Regions from separate parts of the Homo sapiens genome. Here all the other regions are reported to be linked to region 1. Evidence: microRNA targets listed by miRTarBase, many of them from high-throughput screens and not tested one by one. Region 1 holds a microRNA gene; each other region holds the end of a gene's coding sequence.

The links. The annotated mature microRNA hsa-miR-365a-3p reads UAAUGCCCCUAAAAAUCCUUAU and lies in region 1 at 1,540-1,561, opposite strand. An mRNA with a match to its seed (bases 2 to 7 or 8) in the 3' UTR can be bound and repressed. Matches are read on the target gene's strand: a 7mer-m8 pairs with bases 2 to 8, a 7mer-A1 pairs with bases 2 to 7 and ends in A, and an 8mer does both.
Region 2: miRTarBase lists SRP68 as a target of hsa-miR-365a-3p. The part of its 3' UTR that is shown has no 7-base or 8-base seed match.
Region 3: miRTarBase lists SCARB2 as a target of hsa-miR-365a-3p. Seed matches in the 3' UTR shown: 7mer-m8 at 1,905-1,911.

The regions. Positions count from the first base shown.
Region 1 is chr16:14,306,753-14,310,900 of GRCh38, reverse strand. MIR365A (microRNA 365a) reads right to left here and starts at 1,616; the gene lies at 1,530-1,616. All of the region lies in intron 1 of MIR193BHG (MIR193b-365a host gene), which reads right to left. RefSeq lists enhancers at 124-243, 35-329, 2,216-2,265, 3,061-3,745, 3,746-4,148 and 1 more and a silencer at 155-449.
Region 2 is chr17:76,036,408-76,040,407 of GRCh38, forward strand. SRP68 (signal recognition particle 68) reads right to left here. Exons shown (of 16, transcript NM_014230.4): 16 at 2,378-3,526. The coding sequence ends at 3,299. Among named protein-coding and RNA genes, the nearest start is that of EVPL, 11 kb to the left of the region's middle. RefSeq lists a silencer at 301-595 and an enhancer at 3,751-4,000.
Region 3 is chr4:76,158,284-76,162,283 of GRCh38, reverse strand. SCARB2 (scavenger receptor class B member 2) reads left to right here. Exons shown (of 12, transcript NM_005506.4): 12 at 533-3,547. The coding sequence ends at 571. It overlaps LOC124900718 (a long non-coding RNA gene), which reads right to left. Exons shown (of 2, transcript XR_007058144.1): 2 at 3,517-4,000. Among named protein-coding and RNA genes, the nearest start is that of NUP54, 12 kb to the right of the region's middle.

The sequences.
Region 1 (4,148 bases):
TGATGCAGCAGAAAGTGAAACCGCAGTTGGCCCCTGCCGGCTGGGACTGATCACCCATGGTTTCCCTGCAAAACCAGAGTCCCAGGGGGCTGGTGGGCAGCTGGCTCCCAGGTCCGGCACAGTGAGGCCTGTCAGGCAAGTGCCCCTAGAGGCCAAGGGAGGTGCCCTGGCCAGAAAGGAGGGTGCTGAGTCATCGTGACCCTAAAATGAGAGAGAAATCTGAGCTATGGATCAATGCAGGAGTGGGGGGGTGAGGGGTCCCAGTGGTGTCGGTGAGCAGGGAAGGGTGGTTTCCCGACCCCCAAAAGGAAGATGTGTGACACCCAGTTTTGTCATGCTGGAGCCCTCTACAGATCTGAACTGGCAACTCCCCCATCTCCCCCCACCCCTCCCCACACCGACTACAGGAGTGCGGAAAATCCCTGAGATAAACAAGAATTCTCTAAAAGTGGACCTCTGAAACTTTACACACGACTTTCTGATTTCTGTCCCATCCTCAGGGCAGCTGTAGTTGCTTAATATTTTTCTTCCAAAACACCCACTCTTTTTTGTTTAACTGACATCAATTGATGGACAAAAAAAGGGCCCCTGTCTCCCGACCCTAAATGGAAAACCAACCAATTGCCTGAAGTACAAATCAGCGGTGCAAAGAATACCTACTAGAATAATTTTCACCTTTAGCCGGCGCCGCTTAAAATCAGAGATGTGCAAATCAGACTTGGGAGTCTGAGTTACAGGTTTCATGCCTGAGGAGCTGGTGGCTCAGAGAGACTGACTCACTTGTCCCGGGTGACACAGCAAGAGAGGCGCAGAGCTCGGGCTGGAATGCAGGCCTGGCTGATCCCAGAAACCCAGGCTCAGTGCTGGGCTGCCGTCTCCCCACCCATGAATTCCTCTGTGTGTATTCATATTATTACCTTCCATGTTTAATGCATGGACTCTCCAATTTTCAAAGCACCTTCAGAGCTTATACAACGTTAGAGCTTTTTATATATAACATTGGCTACATCCAAGAACCCTTTGAAGCCAGAGCAGGGGGTGCTGCCCCTCCCTTGGTGTATGGGGAAACTGAGGCAGCGAGCGGGGAAAGTGTTCTGTCTCAGGGAGCTAGCAGGAAAGCCAGGACTGCCCCAGGGCCCCCTGCCAAGGCGATGATCCCGGAGGCCCTGGCTGCAAGGACCAGGCCTCGTCAAACAGGTAACACTTGTTTCTTTCCGCTTTCCCTACCTCCCCCTACAACCCCCCAGAGCAAATGCTGACGCTGATGGGGAGCCACAGCTGTACTCCTTCCCAGGCCGGATCTCAGCGTCTGCCCCTGGAGGGCAAAAGCACGTTTAGCAACCAGTGTCTGCGCATGGCGTCTTTCAATTTTTCACAGTGATAACCGGTTTTGAGCACAAGAAGGCATCTACCAGGGACCCAGAAGGCGCTACAGCGGAAGAGTTTGGGGAACAGCTTTCTCTCTTCTTTGAGTTGCTGGAGGAACTCCGAGCTGATGTCTTTCTGGCCCAGGGACCCCCGAGGAATACTGCAAGAGCAATAAGGATTTTTAGGGGCATTATGATAGTGGAATGGAAACACATCTGCCCCCAAAAGTCCCTCATTTTCCCTGCGGTAACGAACCAGCTGGCAGGAAGTGGTAGCTCTCAGAGCACCAAGAGCCAAAACTAAAAAGGAAAAAATGTACAAAGTTAGAGCAAACTTTAAACAAGTGAGCGCTTTCATGGTGTACGGCGGCTCCGTGCAGACTCACGAAAGGGACCTCATCTTCTCAATAATTGGCTAAATAGGTCTCAGTGCAGCAGCTTCCACACAGACGTGCTCAGAAAACCACAGATCTGGAATCCCAGAGCAGGTTCCCAAAATGGATACAAGGATTATTCCCTAAAGCCAGGCGCATCATAGGAGACGTGACGTTTCCCCCAAACTTCAGATGACTGTTCCAGACCCTCATTAATGATCTAAGTTATCCTTCAACACCTCCTCCTCTGGAATGGGAGAAACTTAGTCCCCTTGGAAATGCTGATGAAAATACCTGGTTTCCACAACACGGACAGAAGGACTAAGGCTTGGGTAGGGGAGCTGAGTGGTTATCGCTGGTGGTGCAAAAGGGGCAAACCGGCTGGCGTGGGGGCTCACGCCTGTAATCCCTGCACTTTGGGAGGCCAAAGTGGGAGGACTGCTTGAGGCCAGGAGTTTGAGAACAGCCTGGGCAACACAGTGAGACCCCCCCCAAGTCTCTGCAAAAAATAGCCAGGTGTGGTGGTGTGTGCTTGTAGTCCCAGCTACTCAGGAGGATGAGGCTTGAGCCTAGGAAGTTCAGGCTGCAGTGAGCTGTGCTCACCACTGCACTCCAGCCTGGGCAACAGAGTAAGACACTGTCTCAAAAAAAAGGGGACGGGTTTTACTGCTAAGGTCCCAGGTGCCATCTCTTGGTTCAGCCACTAAGATCTGAGGACTAAGGAGTTCAGGGTGTCTTCCCCAAGGCATATAACCTTTGAGGCCCTGCAGGTGGGTGCCCCCTGTGCCAGCCAGCACCCTCAGAGCCAGGAAAGGGTTAACCCCTCCACATGGCTGACACCAGAGGAGGAGCTTACTACGCAGCCTGGGATATCACACTGGGCCATCTCAGAGAGGAGAGGCCTCTGTGAGTTCTGTGAATGGAAGTGGATTCACTGCCTTCAGATTGAGAACGGGGTGAAAAGGCATCCCCACACAGAACCGACGCCCCAGTCGCTAGCTGGCTCCTTGGCACCCGTCGCATGGCCCCGAAGCTCTGGCAGGGACTCTGGGCACCTGTACCAGTGAGCACCCGGCCATCTCGGCCAGGTCTGTGAGGGAGCGATTCTACCCTTGCCATGTGACAGCCGGCAACTAGGGCCCAGATCTCTTCTTTCAAGTAGCACCTAAAATATTCTCCGGGTGAACCTAGGGCTAAATACGGCATGGCCTACAGGTGCCGGGTCTGGACCTTTTAACGCCATTCTAAGATACGATCGAGAACCCACGAGGCCTTTGGTAGCCTGGAGTCCAGTTACTGGGGCCAAATGGGAGTCCCACGGGTTTGGCTGACTCAGGGCTGGGTGCAACTTCCTGGAGCAGGCACATGTTGGTGCCAGGGCAGAGAGGCTGCAGACAGTTTTCTTGTGTGTTTGAACCCAGAATGCCAGCCCAGTTCTCACTCTGGGCCGACCCCCAAGGTGGCTTAGTTGGTGGCCCCTTTTTCTGTCCACCTGGCCCACTTCTTTCCACTTCCAGCCTGCAGCCCGGCCCTTCCTGGCCTAGGTTTTCCTCCCAGCCTGATCAAAGCAAAAGGCTCAGCTCCCAGGTGGGAGGCCTCACGGAGCTGGAGAAGAGACCAGCAAACACATGCACGGTAACTCAGATGTGTTATGTGTTGTCTTGCTGGCTGGGAGCTACGCCTCCTAGGCCCACCCCAAGTCGAAGGATCGCAGCCCTGGTGCTCGAGAGCAAGGGCTTGGGGCTGGGCTGCAAAAGCTCAGCTTTGCCTCTGAATCTTCTAGAACCACGTTTGCACTCACACAGGACAGATTTGCTCTGAGCCTGTGGGATAGCCTCATCTGTTCCCCTTTGAGCATTTGGAAAGCAAAGTGGGGTTCTGCCCTCGCCAGAGCCCACAGGGTCACCAGGCTATTAAACCCTGCAGAGTCTCTGGGGAGGCTGACTTTGAGAGCCAAATACCCCATCTTCTGGCTGAACTGCTGCAGGCTTCGTCTCGGGAGGAAAGACCCCCAGGCACCTGTCTGGACTTGTCTGGGCACCAGTAGTGGCTCTGAGGCCACATCTGGGCCTCGGCTGGCAGAGGTCTGGGCTGTCTTGGGCACAAATGCCAATGCCAACAGGCCCAGCACTGATCTCACACGATTCCAGCAAGAGAGCCTAGATTTTTGCACATCTCTGAGAAAACTGTCATACCACACCGCACAGCTAACCTTAGGCGCAACCAGCCACTAACTCCTCTCCCTGCCCAGGCGAAGTCCCCTTTGCTGCAGTGGGGCAGCATTTCAGGGACACGGAGAAAGAAGTTTGCTTTGTGGTTCCGTAAACTCAGACGGATGATATAAAATCAGAAACCTTATTTTAAAGCTTGGTAAATATGTGCATATGTCCCCTACAACTGGGGACGC
Region 2 (4,000 bases), not on the chromosome of region 1:
AAAAGTATAAGGGGACTGAATGGAGCTCTCTTCGTCCTCTCTTGATGTTGGAGACAGAAGCCTCCTCCAGGGTCAGAGCTTGCTGACAGCACCAGAGTCCATCCTGGAGGAGGGACTGGAGCCAGCACAACACGGGAACACCCACTTGGAACAGACCCATTCGCGGCCCCCGGGGCCTCATCTGCATGTCCTGCCCCGTGGGAAGGCAGGACTGTGTGGCCTCCGAAGTGTCTTTTTGTGAAAACCCCCAGCGAACAGCCTGCAGGGCCCAGGGGCAGTGAGGGCCTGACTTGAAACCTGCTCCCATCAGAGGCAGAGCCACTTCCCAGGGCCTGAGGACAGGAGGGGGTCCTGCATCTGGCGCTCTGTCCCCCACGACACAGCCTGCTTAATGTCCAGGAATCCCATGTGAAGGGATGTGCAAGCTCGCCGGAGACCTTGGCCCTGCCAGATCTGTCTTCTTATGTAAACACCTGCTTTTAATACTAAACAGCATCACTGGCCGTTAACAGCCAATGCTGCTCAGAGCGCCTGGCAGGAGCACCGGGAGGAATGGAATTTGTAGTGTGGCCGCGAGACAAAGCATTAGGCAACCTGAGAAGGAAAAGGTGCAGTTGGGATTCGCCTCCATCTCTAGTTTATAGGTCCTGGGTCCCCACTGAGGCCAGCACTCTAGAGTGGGAGGGGCTGGGAGGGCTGTGGGAAGGACAAAGGGACATCTTCCAGGAGGATGAGCGGTTCCCCATGCCCGTCCCCCTCACGATGCTGCAGGCAACGGCCTGAGACTGCAGCACAGCAGGGCCTGCAATTGGGTTCTTGGAGCTGGAGGACAGCGTGGCTGTCAGCACAGAGACGAGACAAGGGAGGTGCAGAATCTTGGCCCATGGCCCTGGGAGGAGGATGAGGACATGGATGAAGACCCCCTAACCCCCAAATCGTGGTTCCTCAGCCCGCAGGGACGCTGACCTGATCAAAACCCAGGACCTCAACCTGAGACCAGTCATCTGTGCTATATATATTTTTCTTTTAAAAAAGTTTTTTTGGTAGAGACAAGGTCTCACCATGTTGCCCAGGCTGGTCTCGAACTTCTGGCCTCAAGTGATCTGCCTGCCTTGGCCTCTCAAAGTGCTGGGATTACAGGCGTAAGCCACTGTGTCCAGCCTATCTGTGCTATATTTTCAGAAGGGGTGAGGATAGTCCTAAATTTATATGGCATAGATGATGAAACTTTCAATTAAAAAAAAAAACCCCAGCTTCCTGAGGCTCTCCAACCCAAAACAAACCCCGGGGGATCAGGGCCTCTCTGCGAGCATCTCAAGGTTCTAAGCCACAACACAATTCTAACAAGAAGCCTGATTTGTGTCTCACCATCCTTTCTAGCTCTTATAGCCTTCCCTCCCTGCAACTTACTGGGAAAACAAAAGGCACAGCCAAGCCCACAGTGGCATTCTAAAACCACCTTTACAAAAATTCTAACGGTGAGATTATTAGAGTGAAAAAGGTCTAGCCTAACCCACTCCATCTTGCTTCTAACCTCCAAGCTGTCCTTGTTCATTCCTGGGAATAAGCCGAACTCACTTTGGGAGAAGCTTACAGTTTACTGTTTAACTTTGAAACAAAGATGGTAACAGCACTTTCCGGAAATAAACCCCCTTCTTGCCTGGGGCCCAGACTGCCTTTGTAGGACTAACGAATTAGCCACAAAAATTGAAATTATGGTTTAGGAGTCATGCAGCCAGAGGCCCAAGATTCTGAACCTTCCCAGTTGCTCCTAGGGATGACATCACTGTTGTAAAACCTAAGAATGGTGCTCGAGATATTTTTCAGACCCTGCACTTTATGGATCAGCTGGCACCATCCATCCAAACTGGCTCATCTGGTCTTGTAGCCCCCACCCAGGAAACCGACTCAGCACAAGAGGCCAGCTTCAACTCCCTATGACTTCATCTCCAACTCCCTGACTTCATCTCCAACTCCCTATGACTTCATCTCCAACCTGACCAATCAGCACTCCCCATTTCCTGACCCCCTACCCACCAAATTATCCTTAAAATTCCCAGTCTCTGAATTTTCAGGGAGACCAATGTGAGTAATAAACTCCAGTCTCCTGTTTAGACGGCTGTGTGTGAACTAAACTCTCTATTGCAATTCCTGTTTCCATGAATCAACTCCATCTGGGCAGCGGGCAAGAACCCTCGGGGGGTTACAATGCCATCCTGAAACAATGCTCTTGGATTTTTAACCAGTCAGCCTTTTCTTCAAGCCACTGGGTTTGCTCAAAAACGGAAAACATCTAAGCCAACATTTCTTGTGACGAATTTTCTTTCCTATGTGACAGATGAGTTTTGATTTCCAAAGGGAATCGTTAAGTGTCAGGTACATGTTTAAATCACTTTTATTCCTTGCTTTCTTACATTGTTTTTGTGACTTCTATTATTGATGTTATAATAGAAGTGAAAAGGGATGACTAAGGAAAAACGGGGGGTAACGAAGGGGATTAAAATATAATGGCATCTAAAAATTACACATTGGGAAGTCCTGAAAAATAGTGCCTCTAACATGTGTATCTGGCATCAGCCTCACCTAGTTGCCGGTAAGTCAGGTTACACTTGACCTCACCGGCTTCACGCAACTAGGCTCCCGAGGAGAGAACGGGGACTGGACATGAGGGAGGGCATATAAGAAATGGGCACAGTCTCCGTCATCTTTGCCTTTTAATATAAGATTTGGTTTCATCATTTCTGAGTGTAACATATTTCTTCTAAAAATAGAGCTCTCTGCTTGTCTGAAACTTCTTAGCGTTCACTGGGAGGTGAAGGGGAATAAGGCTGACCGTAATTCTGGGGTGACGTTGCCAGTTTCATAGTCATAGATAAACTTCTCAAGGGCTCCTGGATGCTCACAGCAAGGATGAGTTCATTTCAAATCCATGGTACTGAAGAAGCATGACAAAGCGTTTCAAGGCCCCATCTGTGCCTGGTGTGGACTCCTGAACGCATTACTGACCAAAGGCAATCAATCACAGCTCACAGGGCACCAGACAGCAGCGGCCCCTTTCCCAGGAGGTACAGGAGACAGGATGACCCTGCACACATTTACCAGAAGACAACAGGGTGCTCTCCTGACACGCTGCTTAAGAACGTGTACAGACACAAGATGTAGGAATGCAGGGCCGAAGATGTTAAACTCTTGCCCCGGGCCAATGCAGACCTGGATTTAATATCATGGAACTTGCTGGGATTTTCTCACAATACAGATTAAGAGTCAGAATCTCCCCCGCCCCCGAGGAAGAGCCTGGTTAGCTCCTGAATCCAAAGATGCCCTTGATGTATCCAGTGAGGCCACTCTTGGTCTTCTGTTCCAACTTGTCCTCAAGGGGTGGGAAAGCCACATGGTTGAGGGCCAGGTCAAAGAACAAAGGCTTGCAGGGAATGGGCTGGAAGCCTGGTGGGAAGTGCACAAGGTTGGCTTGCTTGGTGACAAGGGAAGGGTCCAGGCAGAATGTCTCAAACCGTTCAACCAGAGGCTGGAAGTCAAATCAAAGAGACGTATGTAGCATCGGTCACAGAACACCCTTGGTGAACATTCCTGAGTGCCGACTGCCTGGTTCAGAGCTTTACAGGGGCCATCTCACTCAATCACTCAATCCCGACAGCCTCCTACGAGGAGGGGCTACCACATCCCTGCCTTGTAGTCAAAGTCACTGAAACCCAGAGAGGCTAAGAGAGTGGCAGGCTAGGACTGGGGTGCAGGCCTGTTGGCCATGTTACGAGTTAGAGCTCTTACCCACGGGTGCTACTCTTTACAGCAACAGGTTCCTCAACCCTCTTCCCAGGGATGATCTGACATCTAGGAAGCTTTATGCAAGAAGCTTTGAGGTTGGGTAAGAGAAGGGAGGGAGGTGGGGGGTTTCCTTAGAAATTTAGGGTCCACTGCTCTATAATGAGCATGCATTCCTAGTTTGTTACTAATCCTGCTTCGTATTCCTCAAAAACCATGG
Region 3 (4,000 bases), not on the chromosome of region 1:
CTCTTATCCCCTGCCAGTCACTTTAGCCTGAATTAGCTGTGAGGCAAACTATTTTGCCATTTCTATGTGTGGATCTTCCAGTGTGACTTTATGCAGTCATTGAAATTGTCTTAAGCACAAATGAAACCTCATGGAAATGTTAATTACTGCTCCTACAATTAACCTTCCTCATATATTCAACAAGCAAGGAATTATTGAGAACTAATACCTCTGAGACACTACTCCTTAGTAGGTTTCAAACCAGGAAGGAGGCAAGTTGAATAGAGTCTAAGTTTTATAATCCAGATCAACACAGAGAAGGGTACTGCTCTGGTATTGAGGGTGGGAGTGGTCAGAGAAGGCCTCCTGGAAAGGTTAGGCCTGCTGAATCTTCAAGAACAAGCAGCAGCCCAAGAGGGGAGGTGAGTGAGATGAGCCACCTTCCTATAGGTCTCTCCTCCTTCCATGCCCCCACTCCCCACCCAAACTTTTCACACTGGGGAGAAGTTTCTGACATGAACATCTAACTTGTTTTCTCTCTTCTGTGTTTCAGGGAACAGCGGATGAAAGAGCACCCCTCATTCGAACCTAAACATTGCCTTTGCTTGGTGAAGAAACTGTGTGAGCTGTCCTGACCTGGACGATGACGTGGGGAAACCCTCCACCTCCTTGCAGGCTTGTTGCCTGTTGAAAGAAGGAAAAAGACACGGCGCTGGCAAGTGATAGGAACATTCTGGCCAGAGGTTAAAGAGCAGGCTGACATGGCTGGCCATTAAGCTTTATAAAATCATGTGGGCTCTGAAATTGTTCTTTTATGTGTCTAGCAAGTATTTAATAAACCCTTGTATAGTAATTTTGTTGTTGTTGGGTGCTGGTAGCTCCAGAATTTTGTGACCACTATTGTGGGTAAAATGTCTCTGCATCACTTGTTAATGCTACTGGTCTAACTTCATTCAGTATGCTTCATTCACCGAACTTTGTGCTCAAAATGCGTATATACCATTTTATGTTGTATTCCTCCATTTCACTTGCAAAACAGAAGTAAATAAGAGTTCGGGACCCAGGGTAAAATGGTAGCTTCATCCAATATATCATTCAAATGCATCTGATTTCTAAAACATATTACATTTTATGCTGATCTTCAGTTCATAATTCTTCCAGGAAAACTCAGTCTTCCAACTGCAATAAAATACTGGGTAGAATCAAATGGGAAAGGGGTTGGGTGGGGCAATACCCATGAGTTGATAGTGATAAGCTCCTAAGGATTTTTAACTTGTACTTTTGTGAACGAAGAGAATGCATAAATAATGTTGGTGAGGATAAAGTACAGATATTTCATGTAGAATTAATTGCTAGTTATGATGCTTGTGGATAGTTAACTGTTTTTTTTTTAGTCAAAATGATCATGCTACGAAAAGATGCTTCTGAGAGAATGTAATGAGTAACTGATTTTTCTTCCTGAGTCGCCCTTGCCAAATATGTTACTGTATTAATTAATCTAATATTGAGTGATTATTTGTAAAATTATGAATATGGGAAATCCATCTATCTACAGCCTAAGTTACACATAAGTTTCAGAAAGTCTGATTAGACTAAAGAGATATTTCTTCTGGGACAGCCGCCTTCTTGGTAATTTTGAAGTTCTTTTTACAAGTTCCTTCCTCAGTTTCAGTTCTTTCCAGTGTTTTGTAGCTCACTGTCACTCACTGAATAGAGAAACGTGTGCCCTATACTTCCTGTGACAATCATTTTGCTGACAGAATGATGGATGTTTAAAATATTGCACAAAGTACTTTAAAGAAAGGTCTGTTAGGACCAGAAGCAGAGACACCACTTTTCAAAGGACTTCTTGGTTTCAGCATAACCTAAGACAGGGAATTGGGAGCCATCATATGTCACAGTGTTCAGAATTCAAGCATATTTAAGGGCATTTTCTTTGATTCTCAAAGTTCAGCATTCATTTTGAATTGAGAAGCCTATACATTTAGCTGACAAAGTGCTTATAGAATTTCTTAACAACTGAACCATTCAAAAGGATTTTTTTTGTTTAAAACTGGATTTCAATGTAAGCAAATGAAGAAAAAAATATAGATTTCATTTCCATAGCTTCTTATCCCTGTATTGAGGTAATAAATTGTTTTACTGACAATTTTTCCTTTTTCTACACTAAAACAATATGTGATATATTTCCCCTCTTGAAGAGGCAATTCATTAAACTCTCAAATTTTCTATAGAATCAAGATAGAACCTTTAGATACTCCAACTCACCAAAATGTAAAAAAACTAACAAAAATATTTGGTCTTCAATAATGCTAAATATCTACATTTTTAGAATTTATCAACATTTAACTAGATAATTGGGCATGTCTTAATTATGCATGTACTTATCCATACTAATAAAATTGACAATGCTAGTGCATACTTATTGGTTTAGTCCTATTATCAGGATATAATCATCTGTGAGGAGGATATTTTAAATACTGTAAATGATAACAGTTAATGATATACACATTTAGACTGAGTTGCACACTGGCAGGGAGACCAAAAACATTACTTCCATACTTGTGTCATGATTCTTTTTTTTTTGAGAGAGTCTCACTCTGTCGCCAGGCTGGAGTACAGTGGCATGATCTCGGCTCACTGCAACCTCTGCCTCCCGGGTTCAAGCAATTCTCCTGCCTCAGCCACCCAAGTAGCTGGGACTACAGGTGCGTGCCACCACGCCCAGCTAAATTTTGTATTTTTAGTGGAGACGGGGTTTCACCATGTTGGCCAGGATGGTCTCAATCTCCTGACCCTGCGATCTGCCCACCTCAGCCTCCCAAAGTGCTGGGATTACAGGCGTAAGCCACCGGGCCTGGCCTGTTTTATGATTCTTAATAGTTACTTGGTTTAAATCACATTTGATACTATCCTTCTGAAAAGTCTGAGACAGATCTACAAACTACAGTCAAAATTATAGATTAAGAGGAATGAATGCACCTATTTGGCTTTAAGTTGAAGATGAATTATTTCTCATGCTCATTTTCTTGCGGCAGTTATCTTAGAAAGACCCCCAAAGGCTTTGTGATTGTAAGCACTGTCATGATCACAGAATGCAAGCTTCTGGTACCATGATCCTCAACTTAGAGAGGAAGAAACCAAGACAGAGAGCTTAACTCACTTCTCTCAGGGAAAATTAGGAGTTGAGCACAGGACAGGAAATGGGCTTTGCCACTTTTAGCTCCAGGCTTTTCTAACCAGACTTGATTTCCTCATGTTCTAGAAAGATCACTAATGGTCAAGTGGAACAAGCACTACACGACTAACCCCTATTGGGGTTTTTAACTTAAGGGAGGCTAATTTTTAATTTAAACTGCTCGAGATATGAGTTCTGCAAAAGGTGGTCCGCATCCTTGGCCCTCTGGACATTATCACTAAATTGCTTGTGCCTGTTAACAAGAATACTGACCAGAATGCTCTTCATGTAGCTTATACAGTTGGTTCACTTCATGCGGTTCTTGACATGTTTATTTCTACCCTTAATGCAATGAAATGTTTCATTAATAAAAAACCACTTTATATAAAATTGCTCTAGAAGTCATATGTCATTGGATGTCCTGTTGTTTATGGAGTTTCCCTGGAAAGATGTTCCTTGACAGATGCAGCCCTGAGTCACACACTTGGGCCATGTCTGATTTCAGCTTCGCTGTAGTGGACAGTTACAATCAGCCTGACAAGTTTCACTCCAAGCAGTCCCACATTCTGCTTTTCTGTCTTAAGTCTTTCTCAAGAGCCCTCAAAGCACCATAGGAGTATCAGGGAGTTAATAACCCAAGGCAACCCTCAACTAAATGGGGCAGGAGTCAGTCAGCTGATAGATGTTTCAATCCTCAGAGGACCAGTTCTCAGGCTTATTCCACATGGGTCCTCAATTAGGGTTGCCCACAGTGGTAACTACTTTCTATCAGTGTTTCTTTATTCCCTGTCTTAATCGCCCAGCCCTTCAATGCTGCTTCCCAAATCATCCACCTGTCCTAAC